2 separate regions of the Homo sapiens genome follow, and region 1 is linked to region 2. The links come from fine-mapping of genetic effects on gene expression. A gene starts in region 2. The other region holds a variant in brackets. All regions are shown on one strand. Distances are from middle to middle.

Region 1 (5,374 bases), 91 kb after region 2:
TTTTGTTGTTGTGAAGATGGGAATGAAGGCTTCCGAGCTCTTTATATGCCAGAGCTAAAATGAGAATATTATCATTTTCATCCAACTCAAATAACCACAAACGTTACAAGCTCTAAGATGATATTTGCTGTTTCATAGTTAAAGTATCTTCACAGCTAGACTTGGCTTTATTATGTTGTTTATGATGTCTGACATAAATTGGATCCAGGAGAGTCCAGTCTAGATGTCACTGTGTGGCCTTGGGTGATTGAGTGTGACTGGGAGGGTGAGTTAGTTTCTGGTGAGCCAGTATCTATGATGCTGTATCTTGGTCAGCTGGGGCTGCTATAACAAAATATCATAGACTAAGTGACTTGACTAAGAGACTTTATTTTTCACAATTCTGGAGGCTGGGAAGTTAAAGTGCTGGCACATTCAGTTCTTGGTGAGGGCCCCGTTGGCTTGCAAATGGGTTACATCCTGCTGTGTCCTCACATGGCCTTTGCTTGGTGGTTGTGTAAACATGGAGACCCCTCCTTCCTCTTTTTTAATAAGTGCACTGACCCCATCATAAGGGTATCACCCTTATGACCTAATCTAAAACCAGTTACCTCCCCAAAGTCCCACCTCCTAACGTCATCACACTAGGGGTTAGGGTTTCACCATAGTAATTTTGGGAGGACATATTCAGCCTATAACATGTTGTGTCATGGTGAGACTGGCAATGCTAGATTTCGTGATTTCCTAAAAAATAAAATAAAAATAAAAAACTAAGCACCTACTATGTGCTGTTTTAGTCACTGAGAATATAACCCTGAACAGGACGGAAGCTGTGTGCCTTCTTGGAACCCTCCTTCCAGCAGGGAGAGATAAAATGGGGTGGGGGGAGGTGAGGGGCGTACCGTATATCAGAGAGCAGTAACTAGTAGGCATGAAATAAAACAGGTTCCACACGCGCACCATCAGAAAGTCACAAGTGTGCAAAGCAGACAAATCCCAATCTCCTCACTTTTCTATCGCGTAGGCCCCGCCCGCGCCCCAAGCCCCGCCCTGTCATGGTTTTCCTCTCCAGAGGGTAGCCGCTACGCCTTACCGACTGCGTTTCAGTGCTGTCCCACTGCTCCTGCACACCCCACGCCTGCGACCCTACCCACCACGGACAGGCGCTCCTGCGAGCTGGAAGCCAGTTCTCTGCGTCCTGAGCCTGGCAGCTGCATCTGAACACTCGGAGCCTGGCGATGGCTTCCAGAAACCCCTGCGCCGTGGGTCGCTTCAGTGAAGGGGCCTGTACTTCGGCGACCCAGACTCCGGGCTGAGAGGCCTCCTAATCCAACCAGGAGGACCAGGAGAGGCCCAAAAGGGGACACAGGGCAGTGACCGCCAGGCTTGGAGAGGAGCCGCTCCTGGCAAAGCCAGCGCCCTATTTCTGAACGCCGCCTCCGTTCCGGACTACACTTCCCAGGGGCTATTGCAGCGGAGGACACGCCCACTTCCGGAAAGGACCCAAAGCCGGGCGAGTGCACGTCCCGCCGGTTGCTGAGGAGAAGGGAGGTCTGGGCGGGGCAGCGGCCGAGGCTGGACTGGGGCGCGGCGGGGGCGGTGTCCTGGTTCCTGTGTGGGCGGCGGGCGTGAGCGTGCGCGTGTGGCCTGGTGGCTGTGAGTGCCCATACGTGGTGAGCGTGCGGTGCTGTGCTGAGGAGGGGCGAGCGCGCGCGGGGATGGCGGCCCGGTGTGTGACTGTCCGGTGCGTGGCCGCGAATCTGCGCCTGCGTGCATGGCCCGGCGGCGTGCGGAAGGCGGTGTGTGTTGGAATGAGTGAAGCACTTTAAGTGGCCAAGAGCAGGAAACCCGGCCGGAGGAGGCTTACCCCGTTCTCCCCTGTATCGACTGCGTAGAGCCCAGTGTGGGCAAAGTCCTAGAGCCCGGGGAAGTTGCCCGGGCGGGGCAGCCTCGGCTGAAGCATTTCCTGTCAGCCCTATCTGGAAGGGGCAGAGCCCAGGACAGGGCTCCATGTCCACAGGACGGCGAGGAGCGAAGACCATGGGGACTGAGTACACAGGTAAGAGTGACAGATGACGGATGTGGCTGCCGGAGTGGACATTGAGGTTTTGGGTGCTGTCTTTCGGGGTTCAGGTGCTGGAGGAGGATGTCCCCCGTTTCTAAGGCTAGTGGACCTGGAAGTCGAAAGATTTGGAGGGTCACCTTGGGTCAGAGTGGAGCTGGGTTTAGTTAGGGAGGGACCTTGACTTGGCCAGAGACACCTAACCAGATAACCTGACTCAGGTCCTTGGTATATCACTAAGGGCCCATGGGAGAGAACACTACCCGTAATATTACCCATTATAGCATTACTTCTGGGTACTCTGCTGCTGTTGAAGGAATAGCTCAGCATTTAGATTTTTACCCGTCAGAGCCTTGTCCCATCTATCACTGTAGGATTTGGGAAGAAGGCGAGATTCACAGCTTCACCCAGAAATGCCGAGGCATTCCAGCCTTTCTATGGCTTAATCACGTTCTAGTCAATAACGGAAGATATCCCCATTCCTTGGGCTTCTCTCCCTCCCCTCTGGCCTCCCACTC[CA/C]ATAAAGAGAAAGGGGGAGGAAGGGCTATTTTTAGCCATATTGTTCTGTGCTTGTTTAGTTTCCTGCATGCTATAGTAATAGCTAATGTTTAATGAGTGTTTATTATGTGCCAGACACAGTTCTAAGACCTTTTGGGAGTATCAGCACCAAACTTCACAACATTATGAAGTAGGAACTACTTACCTCTTTTTTACAGATGAAGACACAGAAGCATAGAGAGGATAAGTAATCACTAGCAAGTGGAAGAACCGGGATTCAGATCCAGAACAGGCTGACTCCAGAGTCACTGGCTGTCATGTAGTTTCCTCAACTACTGCCTCAGGTAGGTTTCTTAGCCACTTTTGACAATTAAAGAAACTGACTCTGAAAGGGTTAAATAACTAAATAGTTCATATGCCAGAACCTCCACTGAGCAGGTTTGGGGTTTTTTTCTTAAAAAGTTTATGACTCTAAGTTCTTAGGTAAAATGGAGATGGTAATATTATATACCTCACAGTACTGTCATAAGGATTAAATGACCTCATACATGTAAAGCACTTGGTATAGTCCCTGCCATGTAATGTGTTCATTTTTATCATCATTATGATAATCCTTTGAGAAGGCAGTGGAATTTAGATGAAAGAAACTAGAATTAATTCAGATACTTTATCCTCTTCCTTCCTAATTAAGGAAACATGGCTCAGTGGAGTCAAGGGACTGCTTCAACACTGTAGTTTGTCACAAAACAAAATGAGATCCTAGGCCTCATGAGGATTTTTTCATTTGGTTGTCTGCAAGTCACATGGACTCTGTTGTAACGAAAGGAATGCCTCTCTCTGGAAAAGATGGAATTCTCCATGGAATTTGTCTTATAGAATGTTCACAAATCCTGGCCAACTGCACAGAGGACTTATTTTCTGTTATTTTCTGGTATATGAGCAAATAACTTCTGTGATAGAGTCAGCCAGACCTAGGTTGGTGACTAGGTTATTTACAAATTTGTGTGACTTGTGGAAAAGACTTGACTTCCCAGAGCTTTCTTGTGTAAAATGGTGACAATATACCCGATTCTGTTTGAAGATTTTGGAGATTTAAAGACAGTATTAATATATGCAGCACAGACATGGTGGCTCATGCTTGTAATCCCAGCACTGTGGGAAGCCAAGGCAGGAGGATTGCTTGAGGCCAGGAGGTTGACCAGATACCTAACTCCAGGAGGTTGACACCTCCTGGCCTCAAGCAATATAGTGAGCAATTGGGCAATATAGTGAGACCCCCATCTCTATCAAAAGTAAAAAAACTAGCTGGGCATGGTGGCACATGCCTGTAATCTTAGCTACTTAGGAGGCCTAAGCAGGAGGATCCCTTGAGCCCAGAGTTTGAAGATACAGTGAGCTATGATCACGTCACTGTACTCCAACCTGGGCAACAGAGTGAGTCCCTGTCTTAGAAAAAAAAAATGTACACACACACAGGCTAGTATTAATAAATCTGTTGTTAATGAATTGGTGGCTGATGGGGAGAGGGGGTCAAGAGATATTATGCTCATCCTGAAAACCCAGAGCAGAGGGGAACCCCAGCTATATATTTCAAGTCTCCCAAAGAGCATCAGGACTGTGGGGTGGGGGAGTTGGAGTGAGGACTGTGAGTGAGGACAGAAGAAGCTGAAGGGAAGAAAGCATTTTCAGACTTTGATTATTAGTGCTACTTGGTTTCTCACTACTTCTTTTTCTCCCCAGCTCTACAATCCCAGAGTAAAGCTCTTCTCCAAATGAAGAGCCAGGAAGAGGTAGAGGTGGCAGGAATTAAACTTTGTAAAGCCATGTCCCTGGTGAGTTAGTATTCCCCCTCTCCCCACTAAAATAGTTTTGCTTTTCTGGATTTGGTAATACTTGTTTTCTTCTGAAAATATTGTGCTTAAGAGTTCCACCCTGAGGCCTGTTTCCTGTTTCTTCCCTTTCTGATATGTGATGGGGTTGTGAGTGAGGGATAGACTCACACAGCCCAGTGCCCTCTCAGAGGTTCCTTCTCTCCTTCCTGCTCATTGTTTATTTTTCATTCAGGAAATGACCCAGTCTGAGCCCTTCCCTTGTGCTCAGTCTTTTCATAGGCATCTGACAAAGCAGAAGTACAATCCTCAGAGGAAATTTCCATGCCTGGTTCCTAAGTCTCAGTCCTGATTCTCAGAGAGGTTATAATCTGCTGGAGAAATGAAAAGGCAGCAAACACTTACGCAGTGTGAGAAGTGCTGCAAGCAGAGAGTAGACTCACAGTGGAATACTTGGGAAGGGCCATTAATAGCCCATATGATGTCTTTGGGTGAATTAGAAAAAAAAGTGCCCCTTCCTCTCTACTGATGAAGCTCTGTAACAGGCCGCACAATATGGCAAGAGGAAGTCTACCGTATTTTAGCTCCTTCCTGCCTCCTTGGTGAGGGATCCTTGAGCAGGATATAGCCTGCACCATCCTACTCACTGCTGAGGGCAGGAAGGGTTGGGGGGACTTCACAGAGGAAGTGATTCCTGAGTTACGCCTTGAATGAAATGGAGGAAGTGCAGGCATATGGGATTGATGGCATTCTGAACAGAGTATGCAAAGGTTTGTTCTCCCCATTTGACCATGGAGCCGTGAACATCTTAAAATGCCAAGGAATGTTTTACATCCTTTCTTCTTTCTAGGTTGAATACCATAATCTGTTTAGTCAGTCCCTTGTTGTTCCGTAGGTAAATTGTTGACAATTATCTGCTGTTAATAGAGTGTTGCAGTAATTATTCTTGTAGTTGAATTTTTGCCCTCATCTCTGATTATTTTCTTTGACTAAATTCCTAGTTTTT
Region 2 (5,374 bases):
CTCCCTGTCATCATGCCTTCGGTCTGTCCATGCGCTTGCATCACGGTCCTCTCAATCAGAGTGATTTTGCCCCTGCAGGGGACATCTGACAGTGTCTGGAGACATTTTTTTTTCGCTTGTCACAACCCAGAGGGAGGCGCGGTGTGCTACTGGCCTGGTAAATAGAGCCCAGGGTTGCTGCACAACATCCTATAATACATAGAATAGCAGCCCCTCCCACCTCCCAACAAAAAACTATCTGGCCCCAAATGTCACAGTGCCAAGGCTGTGAAACACTGGTCTGGACAGAAACATTTCCAGACCCATGTGTTATATGGAAACATCCCTTAGTCCCTGACACTTCAAAGTTCTGTTCTTGACCCCATGGGCTCCCTAGGGACATCTCCATCAGGAAGATCCTTTGTTCCTGACCCCACCTCCTCTACCCTAATGCTGCCCTCCCAGGACCCTGCCTACACAATTCTGAACCTAAGCCCTGATCTAGACGTCCAAGTTATTTTACCTCTGGACCTGCAACCCTTACTCTGGGGCTCATCCTTTTGCATTTCTACCTATGGATTTTATTCTCCAGGTGTGGGACGCCTGCGGTTATTATGCTAATAATAAAACGATGATCATTGATGTGGCACTTCCTTGTGCCAAGTTCTACTTATGCTCACCATAAACCTGAGGTTGGTTCTGTTATTACTACTGTTTTACAAGTGAACCGAGGAGTGGTGGACTTAAGTAAGCTCTCTCAGTCACACAGCCAGCCAGTGGTGAAACCAGGAGTCAACACCAGACAGCGGGGCGCCACAGTCCATGCTCTTATTTTTCCAAGCTACCTTGGTAGGAAGGGGACACAACCATACTTAGCGTCAGTGGAGGGCTCTGTCCTCCACTCAAATGTACACATGCAGAAAACTGACGACGCAGGTGGTTGGCGGGGGCAGCGCACCACTGCTCAACTGGAGATGGTCAGATGCCCTGGTATGTGGACAAAGATAGCCCAGTCCGAAGCTCAGAGATGCAAAGTCCTCCAGTATTCACCACTACCTCTGCCTCTGTATAGGGTCAAAGAAAAACGACCACCAGCACCATAACCAACACCTAAACACGGTGATTAGTATGTGACAAGCTCTGTGCAGGGTGTTTCAGCTACGTCATCCCATTTAATCTTCCCAATAACACCCAGGCAGGTGCTATTAATATGCTATTTTACCAAGGAGGAAAGTCATGCACAATTAAACAGTTCCACAGATTTCCAGGGCAGCCCATCACATCTTAGAGCTGCTAAGAATTCTTCCCCTGTGGGCCTCCATTTCCATGGTTACAGTGAGATATACACCAGAAAGGCACAGTCACACACTCATAACCGCAAAGCCACTGACGCTAAGTGGCAGACAGACGCCCAGGCAAGTCACACAGTAACCCAAGGCTACAATAAACGCCCACATCAGCCTGACACTGACACACGCACACACTCCAGAAACACAAATCTTCACAGTCAGCGTCACACACCCACTCCCGGCTTCCCAATGGCTCCATTGTTTCCTTCGCGTGGGTCACGCAGCGATACACATCCGCGGTCCCGACATAGCTCCCTCACACACAGGCACACACGGCTCGCCTCACACGCGGCGCCAACTTCACACTTGGGCGCACAAGCCCCGAGAACCACAGCAGCGAAGGGCGCAAACCCCACGCCGTGGCGGGCCGAGAACCCACGCAGGCGCGAGCCCACCGCCCACGCAAGCACCCGCGCAGACGCCCACGCCATCGTGGATGCGCAAACCCACGCGCGCCTTGGCAGGAACGTCCACGCAGTGGCGGGCGCGCCGCCCACGCCCTCAGACACACCCACACTCTCGCCAGCCCCCTTACCTCGGTCTTCCCGGGCTCAGACCCCGGCGGCGACCACCGAGACAGCCGAGCAGGGACTCAGCGCCTGCGCACTCCCCTCCGGGACCCCGGGACCGCGCGCTGCACCCCCCTTCACACACGCACCACGCATGCGGGCGCGTGGCCCCGCCCCCAAACAAGGCCACGCGGCGTGCGCTCACCCGCCTCTCGGGGACAGTACCACCAGCCCCGGCCTGAGGCCCCGACCCCTCAGCGCCACACGCACAAGCGCGTTCGCACGATTGGTGCAGGCGGACGCGCGAGGTCCCGCGCCTGCGCACACCCCCGAGGCTGGCACGCACACCGGTCTCCTAGGGGACTGGCGCCTGGCCCTGCTTTTCATCCTCTCAGGAGATCACGTGTGGACACTGAGGCCCTTCCTCGAGCTCTTTAACCAAACCCAACCTCCCCAATTCGCCGCCTTCCCCGCTCCCACAACCACACGTTCCCGTGTGAGGGCTTATTGCCTCCAGCCAGCCAGCGTCCTTCGCCCCCACATTCACGAGGTTTGGAGCCGGCCTCACCCGCGGAGGCGGACACCGCCCACCCGCGCGTGCGCACTACGCAGTCATCCTGCGACCTCCAGAATCCACCGGGGTGCAGCGAGGCTGTGGAAAGTCCCACCCAGAACGTGAGGTGAAGAAGGCTTGGGCTGCGCTGGTTCTGCTCTGTCCGGGTCGGAGATGAACTGACCCGGGAGAGCAGCGGAGGGATGTTTCTTTTGGCCAACAGTGGGGACTCACCTGCACGTTTTGCGAAGAGGCCCACAGTCCTTTGCGTGGCGCTCGGACTACATTTCCCAACGGCCCCTGCACGCCCTGGGGGCTGTTCCATGCGGTGTTGCGCCTGCGTAGCCGGCGGGCTGGCAGTGAGACTGACTGCGTCGGGGTTGAGACTGGGTGGATGAGGCTCACCCCGGCGGGGAGAAGGGACGAGGAGGGGCGGACAGCGGAAGGTCCGGGAGTGTCCGCCATAAAGTCGTTTGAGGTGACCGTTGCGTAATTGTGAGTCTGTGAGAGAAGATGTGAAGTATGGCCTCGTCCCGGTCATCTGGGCGTGCGGGTCCCGGGTTTTGATCGCGCGTTTGTGTAGGTGAGACCCACATTGTGTTACCCTGAACATGTGTGAGGACGAACCTTTGTGTTTTCTTATACGTGTGTCTCTGAGGCGATTTTTGTGGTTTTGTACGTGGCGGGGGGCACTGATTTTGAATATGTGTGTATGTTCTGGACATTTGTTTAGCTTCTGCATCCACTTCTGCGGAAGGGCAGAGTTGAGTAGGTGGGAACAGGTACTGTGTGGCCCCACAAAGCCTGAACTATTTACTGTTGACTCTAGAGCCCAGTTTTTGCGGTGTGTACGTCTCTGTGGGGAACCACACATTTTGAATATGTATACTTGTGTATATTTACGTCTATTCTATGACTGCTTTTGCACAATGGCAGGGTTCAGTACTTGCAGCAGAGATCTTGTGGCCCATAAAGCCTAAAATACTATCCGACTAAGGTTTCGAGCCGTAGCCAGTTTTTGTGGATGAGTGTTGTGTGTGTGTGGGAAGCCAGTGATTGATTGATTGATTGATTGATTTGGGACGGAGTCTCGCTCTGTCGCCCAGGCTGGAGTGCAGTGGCGCGATCTCGGCTCACTGCAACCTCCGCCTCCAGGTTCAAGCCATTCTTCTGCCTCATCCTCCCTAGTAGCTGGGACTACAGGCGCCCGCCACCACGCCCGGCTAAGTTTTTTGTATTTTTAGTAGATTCGGGGTTTCACCATGTGGGCTCTTGACCTCGTGATCCGCCCGCCTCGGCCTCCCAAAGTGCTGGGATTACAGGCGTGAGCCACCGCGACCGGCCAAGGAAAGCCAGTGTTTTTGACTCTGTGTGTGTGTACCCGCCTGTGTGTTGAGACCCAGTTTTTGTAGTTGCATAGGTGGGTATATGTGTGAGGGGAACCCAGGGCCTGTGATTTCTTTCTTCCCAGGTGACTCTGAGCAAGTTTTGGGGACTAGGTAGTAGGGAGAATGTGTGAGGAACTAGTTTTGGTTTCCCATTTCTGTGATTAGGTAGTAGCAATAATAAAAATAAAAGCTAACAGATACTACTATTAGGACTTTTACCATTACCTCTGTGACTAGCAGCTAGCACTTACTGATTGTTGTCCCTGGTCAAAAGTGAATTTTTCCATTTAAGGTTTTCTTTAATCCTGTAAGCCGTTCTCTGAGTTGTTCCTTGGAGCAAGTTTCTTTCTAGACTGGAGATTGTTCTAAATACCTGGTAATACTAGAATAAGGGGTGTGGTCAAGAGATCCAAGAAATCTTAGGATAAATCTGTCACTTGGCAGTTTCTTTGTTTTCTTTAAACCACCTCCCAAGAAAGTATGTCATCCTTTCTGCTGTTTTAGGGGCATGTTAGTGCGAAAATCTGGGAAAAAGCTTTATGCCTCAGACTGTCCTAGTTCAGAGAAACCAGAGTGTGTGGGTCGGATGTCTTGGCTCCTGATCAGGCTCTGTTGTGCCCATTCTCCGAATAAAGCAACTATCTCCCAAGACACCCATGAGTTTTCTAAGACAGTTTGTCCCAGAGCCCAGGTCCAGAATCTAGTCCTGGTCTTGGATTTGGTCAGACCTTCCCTCACTCTCACCTCAGGACTCCCCACCACTTCCCCCCCTGCCCCAGGAACCCATGGGAATTACAGGCATAAATTAAATACCTGATCCTATGACAGCTCCAGAGTATCTGGAATCTTTTTTTTTTTTTTTTGAGACAGTGTCTTGCTCTGTCGCCCAGGCTGGAGTGCAGTGGCGTGATCTCTGCTCACTGCAAGCTCCGCCTCCTGGGTTCAGGCCATTCTTCTGCCTCAGCCTCCCGAGTAGCTGGGACTGCGAGTGTCCATCACCACACCCAGCTAATTTTTTTGTACTTTTAGTAGACACGGGGTTTCACCTTGTTAGCCATGATGGTTTCACTCTCCTGACTTCGTGATCTGCCCGCTTCAGCCTCCCAAAGTGCTGGGATTACAGGCGTGAGCCACCACGCCCAGCCCAAGATTTAATTTGTTAAAAAAAAAAAAAAAAAAAAAAAAAGTAGGGTAAAGACGCTAGAAAGTCTAGAGAGGAAGGAGGGATTATTTTACACAGGATGGTCAGGGGAGGCCACTTTGATAGGTGGCATTTAGCAGTGAGGCTTCCTGAACTCAGCATGACTGCTCCGCTTGGCTCAGATTCCAGCTCTGTCCACTGTAGTTGAGGAATTATCCCTAGACAGAGAATGGGGAGATAAAGAGGCTCAGCTTGTTAACAGGTTCCCCTCTCACATGAATCTTTTGTCCACTGCCTCAAAACTGCCCCGATATAGTTTAATTTCGTAGTATGCTATTGTGTCATGCTGCAACTCTTTCAGCTCCAAAAGGGATGGCACCAGGTTCAAGAGGCTGAAGAAGAGACTCAGATCCAGGAAATGAGGCATAGGTTATATGTGAGATGGAACTTACATA

Evidence for each region. PIP is the estimated chance that this variant, and not a neighbour inherited with it, causes the effect.
Region 1: its variant is fine-mapped to the expression of ZNF667-AS1 in left ventricle (GTEx, PIP 0.99).

Annotation. Positions count from the first base shown.
Region 1 is chr19:56,566,001-56,571,374 of GRCh38, forward strand. ZNF470-DT (ZNF470 divergent transcript) reads right to left here and starts at 2,021. Exons shown (of 2, transcript XM_047439806.1): 1 at 1,073-2,021. The coding sequence starts at 2,021. The coding sequence ends at 1,083. ZNF470 (zinc finger protein 470) reads left to right here and starts at 1,468. Exons shown (of 6, transcript NM_001001668.4): 1 at 1,468-2,038; 2 at 2,758-2,883; 3 at 4,280-4,371. The coding sequence starts at 4,312. RefSeq lists enhancers at 1,148-1,197, 1,208-1,417, 1,798-1,907. The variant CA/C (reference allele first, on the strand shown) is at 2,560.
Region 2 is chr19:56,475,409-56,480,782 of GRCh38, forward strand. ZNF667-AS1 (ZNF667 antisense RNA 1) reads left to right here and starts at 2,466. Exons shown (of 2, transcript NR_036521.1): 1 at 2,466-2,973. ZNF667 (zinc finger protein 667) reads right to left here and starts at 1,937. Exons shown (of 7, transcript NM_001321356.2): 1 at 1,864-1,937.